Homo sapiens: one gene and its partner. The protein of the gene in region 2 purifies or fractionates together with the protein of the main gene of each other region. This does not show direct contact. Each region holds a gene or a part of one and is shown on either strand. Other genes may lie near its edges.

Region 1 (3,500 bases), on a different chromosome or scaffold from region 2:
GTAGATTTGTTTTATTTTGTCTCCACATGATACTGCTCCTTAGCAATAAGCCAAGAAAGCTCCTATACATTTTACTGTTTTTAAGGGGCCACTCAGTGCAGCTGGCCCACATTACATTAATCTAGGCCTGAAAAATAGATGAATATTATTAAAATATTAGGCATTTTTTAAGTTAATTTCTCATGCACTTTTGAGTTGTCAGTATTGTTTTCTTGTCCATTTATTTTCAATCTACCAGCAAATGGTTTATCCTTAATGGAGTTTATTCAGTTTCTTGGCGACATCGGGGGTACCTGTATACAAAGTCATAGCTCCAGGGGGGCATTGTATACATGAAAATCAAACCTGTGACCCAGAGGTAAGTACAAGAAACTCTTTCATTTACTTACTTCAATATAGACTTCTGCTGCAATTCATTTTGTAGTTGTGGTAGGAATTGTCCCGAAGCAGAGATCCTATACACTGATGGGGACAACTATGTGCTGAAGTGGGGAGTGTGCATCAGGTAAGCAGGAGAGTATGGAAAACAGTGGGTGGAATGGAGAGAAAGCACTGTATTTCCTGAGCTTGCCTGCCCTACCATATACCCAAGACCATAGAAAGTAGGTATGGTCAACAACAACACTGATAAATGTGAAATTATAGTGGGTGCAGATTATGAGCATTTGATGAAAAATGGGATACTTTCCAGCACTCATTAGATAATTATATAAAGTGATATAACAGAAAATAGAGGAGTAAGAGCAGGAGCTAACAGAGAAACAACAGGATATGCAATTAAGGGGAAGAGGAAAACACAGGGAGTTGTTATCTTGGAGTGATATTTAATATTATGTCCTTGTGTTCCTTTTTCTCAATGCAGATTTTTAATACAACTGAAATTGCCAAAGCTTGCCCTGGGGCTCTGTGTAACTTTGCTTTCTATGGTGGAAAGAGCTTGTACCATCAGTACATCCCTACCTTCCATGTATACAACTTATTTGTCTTTCTCTGGCTTATAAACTTCGTCATTGCATTAGGTCAGTGCGCCCTTGCTGGTGCATTCGCTACTTATTACTGGGCCATGAAAAAACCTGATGACATCCCACGATATCCACTTTTTACTGCATTTGGACGAGCCATACGGTAAGTTTCAAGTTGAAGCCTACACCTATCTTGTCAGTTACATTTAGTGTGCTTGTAATTCAGTCTTGGCTCATTAATTCAAGTGGCAAGGTACAAATGAAATCAAAGGTATGAATCAAAATTCATGGATGCCCATTGGTTTTGTCTGGTTTCATAGCCAGTTTTACAATCCCTACCCAAGCCAATTTCCTTCTAAATGCTATAGGTTACTAGAGAGAGAAAAAGATAGAGGAGGATACCAAATGAAAGATCAAGGATTAACTTGGCTCTGTGTCTCCATTGAGCAGTAAAAACATCCTATTTTATGATGATAGACTATTGGTGTCATTTATGCTGATAAAGGGTAAGACAGATGTATATGGTTTAAAATCCTCTATAGAGACTTTTATCAATCTAAATAAGAGAGTGCAAAAGTCTCTTTGCTGTTAATCCTTCTGCAGATACCTTTTACTTGTGAAAATTATTCAATTAGCATCCCCTTAAATAATAGTATTAAGTTTTAACTTATTCTCATTTTATTTTTGTGCAGATATCACACAGGATCCCTAGCATTTGGATCTTTAATTATTGCATTAATTCAAATGTTTAAAATTGTACTAGAATACTTGGACCACCGTCTTAAACGTAAGATTTCAGATGTCCTGACTTTTGTGAAGATAATAAATTGGGTTGGGGGTTGGGGGAGACCTGATGATTATAACTTGGACTAGGGTAGTAAGGATGAAAGGGCATATTTGGGACCCGTTCTGTTCTGAAGGAAAACCAGAGAGAGCTTGCTGAAGGAGTTGATGTCAGGGGAGGGGAGGGACAGTGGTGAATAAAAGAGAGAAAAGGTGTGTGATCCTATTTGTTAAGCTGTGGAAGCCAGAAGAAACAAATTTCAAAAAGGAGATTAAGAATTCTGTTTTGAGATGTTATTGTTGAGAAGCATGATGGAGATGTCAGGTTGGCAGTTCCAAGTATATAGTTCAGGTCAGGTTAGGCTTAAAATATAAATGTGGGTGTCACGGGCATAAATCTTCATACCTGATATATATTGTTTACAAACACATAAACTTTGCTTGGAATGTACCTTAAAATATTTTATTACTAATATTGGAAAAAGACTTGAAAAGGAACAAAAAAGCTGGAAGACTCATACTTCCTGATTTCAAAACTTATCATAAATCTACAGCAATCAAAAGAGTGTGGTACTAGCATAAGGACAGACATATAGAGGTAAAATAAAACAGAAATCCCAGAAACTAACTCTCACATATAAGACCATTCAATGGGAAAAGATCAGTCTTTTCAACTAATGGTGCTGGGAAAATGGGATATCCACATGCAAAAGAATGAAGTTCAACCTTATCTTACATTAACATACAAAAATTAACTAAAAATGGATCAAAGACCTAAACAAAAGCACAAAAACTATAAAACTCTTAGAAGAAAACATAAGATGAAAGCTTCATGACATTGGATTTGGTGATTATTTCTTAGATAGTACACCCAAAGCATAGGCAACAAAAGAAAAATAAATTGAACTTCATCAAATTTAAAAACATTTATTCAACAAAGAACACTACCAAGAGAGTGAAAAGACAGCCCACATGATGGAAGAAAATATTTCCAAATCATATGCCAGATAAGGAATTCATATCCAGAACATAAAAGAACTTCTACAACTCAACAGCAAAATAATAAGCAACCCAGTTCAAAAATGGACAAAGAACTTGAATAGATATTTCTCCAAAAATGATATACAAATGGCCAATGAGGACATGAAAAGATGCTTAATATCACTAGTCATTAGGGAAATGCAAGTCAAAACCACAATGAGACTCCATACACATTAGAATGGCTATTATATATATATAAAAACAAAGAAAAAAGCAGAAAATAACAAGTGTTGGTAAGAATGTGGAGAAATTGGAACCCTGTGTATTGCTGGAGGGAATGTCAAATGATGTAGTCACTGTAGAAAACAGTATGGCAGCTTCTAAAAAATTTTTAAATATAATTTTATATGACCCAGAAATCCTATATCTAGATATACATGAAAAGAATTGAAAGAAGGAACTCAAACAGATACTTGCACATCACTGTTCATAACAGCATTATTCAGAATAGCCAGAAGGTATAAACAACCCAAATTCCAATTAACAAATGAATAAACAAAATGTGTTATGTACACACAATCAAATATTATTCAACCTTAAAAAGGAATGAAATGATGACCCTTGACGACATCATGCTAAGTGAAATAAGCAAGATACAAAAGGGTAAATATTGTATGATTCCTCCTATTTGAAGCACCTAGGAGAAGCAAATTTATACAGACAAAAAATATAATGGAGTTTACTAAGAGCTGGGGGAATAGGGGAATGAGCAGT
Region 2 (4,806 bases):
AACTTCATTGACGCCTTTTGGCCAATTGGATGACGCTTTTTCCAGACCCACCTATAGCCACCCATGGACCAATCAGCATGCACTTCCTCCATTCTAAGCACATAAAAGCCTCAGATGCAGCCAAACTCACTCACTGGGGGGACCTGCCTGCAGAAAGGAGCTACTGACTTCAGGTCTCCTGAGAGCTGTTTTCTTGCTTAATAAAGCTCCTCTGCACCTTGCTCACCCTCTAGTTGTCCTCTAGTATCCTCATTCTTCCTGGACGCAGGATGAGAACTTGGGACCCACCGAACAGGGGGAGCTAAAGGTGCTGTAACATGTTCCTGGCTCATTTGCCAAGCTGTGGGTGGTGACATGCTCCCGGACTATGGGAGTAAAAAGTGGTGACCCTCCTGGTGGCCCAGACCTCGGGACTCCCCAAGCCAGAGCTGCTGTAACACTATAGCCCTCCCACCCTCTGCCAGTGCTGGGTGGCCACCCAATGGGACAGGAAGCAGAGGTGGGCCAGGCCAGCCCAGGAGCTGCAGGTCAGAGTGGGGTGGTGGGACTGAAAGGGCTGTAACACAAACAGACTGAAACACAAACCCCCAAACTCACCCCCTCATTGGCTGCATTGTGGGTGACGAGAAGGAAAGAAGAGCTTCTTGGAGCCCAGACCTCAGGACTCCCTGAGCCAGGGCTGTGACAGGCTGTAATACCCTCTTTGGGCTCTGCAGTTCCTGGCATCTCTGAGCTTTTGGGTGCCCCCATATTCCCCTCGTCCAGATGCTGGTGCCCATAATGGAAACCACTTGCAGTATGCCTGGTCCAGCTATAGCCTCACATGAAGCTGGTGCCTCTGCTGGCACCTGGAGCTGCCCATCCCACCACAGCAGCAAGTGTGCCTGGCTGTGTGCAGTGGCCAGACCCCTGTGCTTGCTCACTCACACACCTCTCGCCTCTCCCACCCTTGGCAAGCATGGAATCCAGGCTGGTAGCACGAGCCAAGTGCAGCCTGCCAGGCCAAGTGGGTGAAAAGAACCCAGCAGCCATGAGCAAACTCAAGCAGAGGAACCACCAGCCACAGAGGTTTCTGTCTGGAAAAGTGACATCCTAAGGATCCTGTGACAAGATCAGAGAGAGATTATGGCAAATTGAGGAGATGAGGCAAATAGCATCCCTGGATAACAGGAGTTTCTTAGGGGATTGCAGAAGATAAAGATTTTTTTCATGATAATGGAAATAGTTTACAGATAATTCTGAATGTAGGACAGAGATACACTTTATATCTCAGGCACTAAGGAACAGTAAGAAAAGATATATTCGAATTTTTTTAAGAAAACTGGCACAAAAAAGTTGAATACTGAATCATTTGGTATATCAGGGAGTAAGGAAGAGATGGGACATAAAATACCATTGTGAAAATCTAGGTGTAAAATATGAAGAGGTGGGTTTAGGTAAAATCCACAGGAATTGAAGAGACAACACGGAAAAAAAGCAGTTTAAGGAAATTTTTCACCTAATGCAACATCTGTTAGGCTAACGAGGTGAAAGATGGAAGAATCAAAGAGAACTCTTTAAATCTCAATTACAGTCCAGTGGAAAGGCTCAACAAGAAAGGAAAAGGCAAACAATTCCCCAAATTTTGAAACAGAGCTTTACAGGAAGAACACAAAGTGTATAGAAAAAATTGTCCTGATAATTATTCAGTCTATTCTCCAAGCCTCAATTGTTACACACTTGAGGATTGTGGGTAACTGAAATTCCAAAGAACTCCTCTGGTTGAGTAATGGGTGGGGCTGCTGTGTTTCTGGCTGATGTAATAGCACCAAAACTCCAGGCAAGTCTCACCTGAAAATAGGATGCATCTCCCTGATGACACAGCAATAAGAACCTGCCTTTCTACATCTACAGCATGGCAGGGTACATAGAGTAGGAGGGCAGAGGCATCACAATTCTGGAATATTTGCAAAAAATACTCATTGAGAGTAGGATTTATAATCCATATTTTTATTGTCATTATTTAGGGAGTGCATTTCTGCAAATAATTCTTACAGTCCTTTATATACCTCACCAAAACTGCAGATTTTGTATTGAAAGATTCATTATGAAGAAATAAACAGCAAGGAAGCACTAGACTAGAGCAGAACAAAACTGTAAGATGAACTTGTACATCTTTCTCTTGCTTACTGGGTAAGACCAAGGTGGTGTGGCTTGATGGATAATGACATCTCAGGAAAGGGATACAGCTATTTATTCCATTAATGTCAGTTTTGTTGCAAAGGGGATGACTAGCCGCTCTGTGTGTGAGAAGATGACCATGACAACGGAGAACCCCAACCAGACTGTGGTGAGCCACTTCTTCCTGGAGGGTTTGAGGTACACCGCTAAACATTCTAGCCTCTTCTTCCTCCTCTTCCTCCTCATCTACAGCATCACTGTGGCTGGGAATCTCCTCATCCTCCTAACTGTGGGCTCTGACTCTCACCTCAGCTTACCCATGTACCACTTCCTGGGGCACCTCTCCTTCCTGGATGCCTGTTTGTCTACAGTGACAGTGCCCAAGGTCATGGCAGGCCTGCTGACTCTGGATGGGAAGGTGATCTCCTTTGAGGGCTGTGCCGTACAGCTTTATTGCTTCCACTTTCTGGCCAGCACTGAGTGCTTCCTGTACACAGTCATGGCCTATGACCGCTATCTGGCTATCTGTCAACCCCTGCACTACCCAGTGGCCATGAACAGAAGGATGTGTGCAGAAATGGCTGGAATCACCTGGGCCATAGGTGCCACGCACGCTGCAATCCACACCTCCCTCACCTTCCGCCTGCTCTACTGTGGGCCTTGCCACATTGCCTACTTCTTCTGCGACATACCCCCTGTCCTAAAGCTCGCCTGTACAGACACCACCATTAATGAGCTAGTCATGCTTGCCAGCATTGGCATCGTGGCTGCAGGCTGCCTCATCCTCATCGTTATTTCCTACATCTTCATCGTGGCAGCTGTGTTGCGCATCCGCACAGCCCAGGGCCGGCAGCGGGCCTTCTCCCCCTGCACTGCCCAGCTCACTGGGGTGCTCCTGTACTACGTGCCACCTGTCTGTATCTACCTGCAGCCTCGCTCCAGTGAGGCAGGAGCTGGGGCCCCTGCTGTCTTCTACACAATCGTAACTCCAATGCTCAACCCATTCATTTACACTTTGCGGAACAAGGAGGTGAAGCATGCTCTGCAAAGGCTTTTGTGCAGCAGCTTCCGAGAGTCTACAGCAGGCAGCCCACCCCCATAGTCTGTGCTATCAAAACTCACAATTTGCCTGCCAGGAAAGCAACTATTCACATCTCAAATCATTCAGGTGGAAATCAGAATAACTGAGTTGCAACTCAGTCACACACTTTCCCCCAGCTTTGGCCAAATGGTCTACCTCACTCTCTCCCTTGCAAACACTTCATCTAGAAAATGAGGAGGCTGGATTAGATGATGTCTAGAGTCTCTCCAAAATCTATGTTCTATGGTTCAGAGGTATGTGAAATGCTATTCGTATCCTCATTTGTATTAGTAAATGATTGTTTTACTTTTTATGAAATAACTTTATTAAATACATACAGAATACTGTAAACAAAAATATAAAAGGCAATGAAAAAACCTTTGTATACATATTTCCCAGCTTAGAAACCACATTTTTTAAAATGATAAAATACAAGGAGAAAAGTGATTGTCCAAGGTGACTTAGAAAGTCACATTTTCTTTATTCTCCCACTCATGGTAGTATATACTTTAGGCCACATTGAGAGATAGAAATAACATGGGTTTTGGTGTCAATTGAACCTACCAGTATTCTAATACTGATCCAACCAGGTCTAGTTGTAGAATTTTGTACAGATGTCATAATTGCAGTTTTAGTCTCCACTTTTAAGAGTAAGATTTAAAATAATTGCTTTGTAGGATATTATGAGGTCTAAATAAAATAGTTATATTAAGTGTCATGTAAAATAGGCGCTCATGTTTCTTACCAAGCTGGTTGAAGAAATCAAAGAGAGCTTATGATACAAGCTAAGGTTCAAATTGTTTCTGAAAGATTAGCAAGGTTTTAATATCTTCATTGAGTTTATAGGGCAACTACAAAAGAAAGGGCATTTCTAGACTTCAAAATTATAAAAGATAACTCAAGGTTTTAGTTAAACCAGCTTACCATACAAGAGGAAGGAGTTGTGTTGTATTCACCTAACCTATTCTATAAGATGAAAATGTCCTTGAATGCCAACCTAAAGAATTCAGATTATGCCCTAGGCATCCTACCTGTTTACTTTTCCTCCTCCTTGTCATCTATAGAAATACCTTTATCCTGAGAAGCCACTTCTTTAAATGCTAAACCATGAGATAAATTAGAAAAGAGAGACAAAAAAAGGAGAAATGGTAGAATGGCCAGTTAATAAACTATTATAACATCAGAGACATAAGATAATAAAAGTATTGCTAAACCTAGATGAAGAGACACTTTATAGAATTAGATCAGAAGTGTTTTGAAGAGAAAAAATTATAAGACTATTAGAATGGGAATCATAATTATAATCATTTTTGACATATGTATGTACAAGGCACTGTACTAGTTGCTTGGTCTGCATTAATCCTCCTAAGAAATATATTTTGCAGCAATATTTTTATTGTTATTAATGATATACAGATAAAGTAAGATAAAATAACTTTTACCAGGCCATGCCAACCATAATAGTTAAAGCCAGGATTTCAACTCAAATCTGTATGTCTTCAAAGACTACACATTTCAATTAGACAATAGTACTTTAGAGATAATCAAATCCCACCCCATTTTTT

Evidence for each region. Proteins that work in one complex are often made in the same cells at the same time.
Region 1: the proteins of OR10S1 (region 2) and SLC44A5 purify together in Homo sapiens (affinity purification with mass spectrometry; one large-scale study listed by BioGRID and IntAct). This does not show direct contact.

Annotation. Positions count from the first base shown.
Region 1 is NC_000001.11:75,216,115-75,219,614, reverse strand, and holds part of SLC44A5 (choline transporter-like protein 5), read left to right. Parts: intron 1-270; coding exon 271-358; intron 359-862; coding exon 863-1,125; intron 1,126-1,654; coding exon 1,655-1,749; intron 1,750-3,500.
Region 2 is NC_000011.10:123,975,152-123,979,957, reverse strand, and holds OR10S1 (olfactory receptor 10S1), read left to right. Parts: upstream 1-2,176; 5' UTR 2,177-2,293; coding exon 2,294-3,262; 3' UTR 3,263-3,297; downstream 3,298-4,806. UniProt on the Homo sapiens protein: Odorant receptor.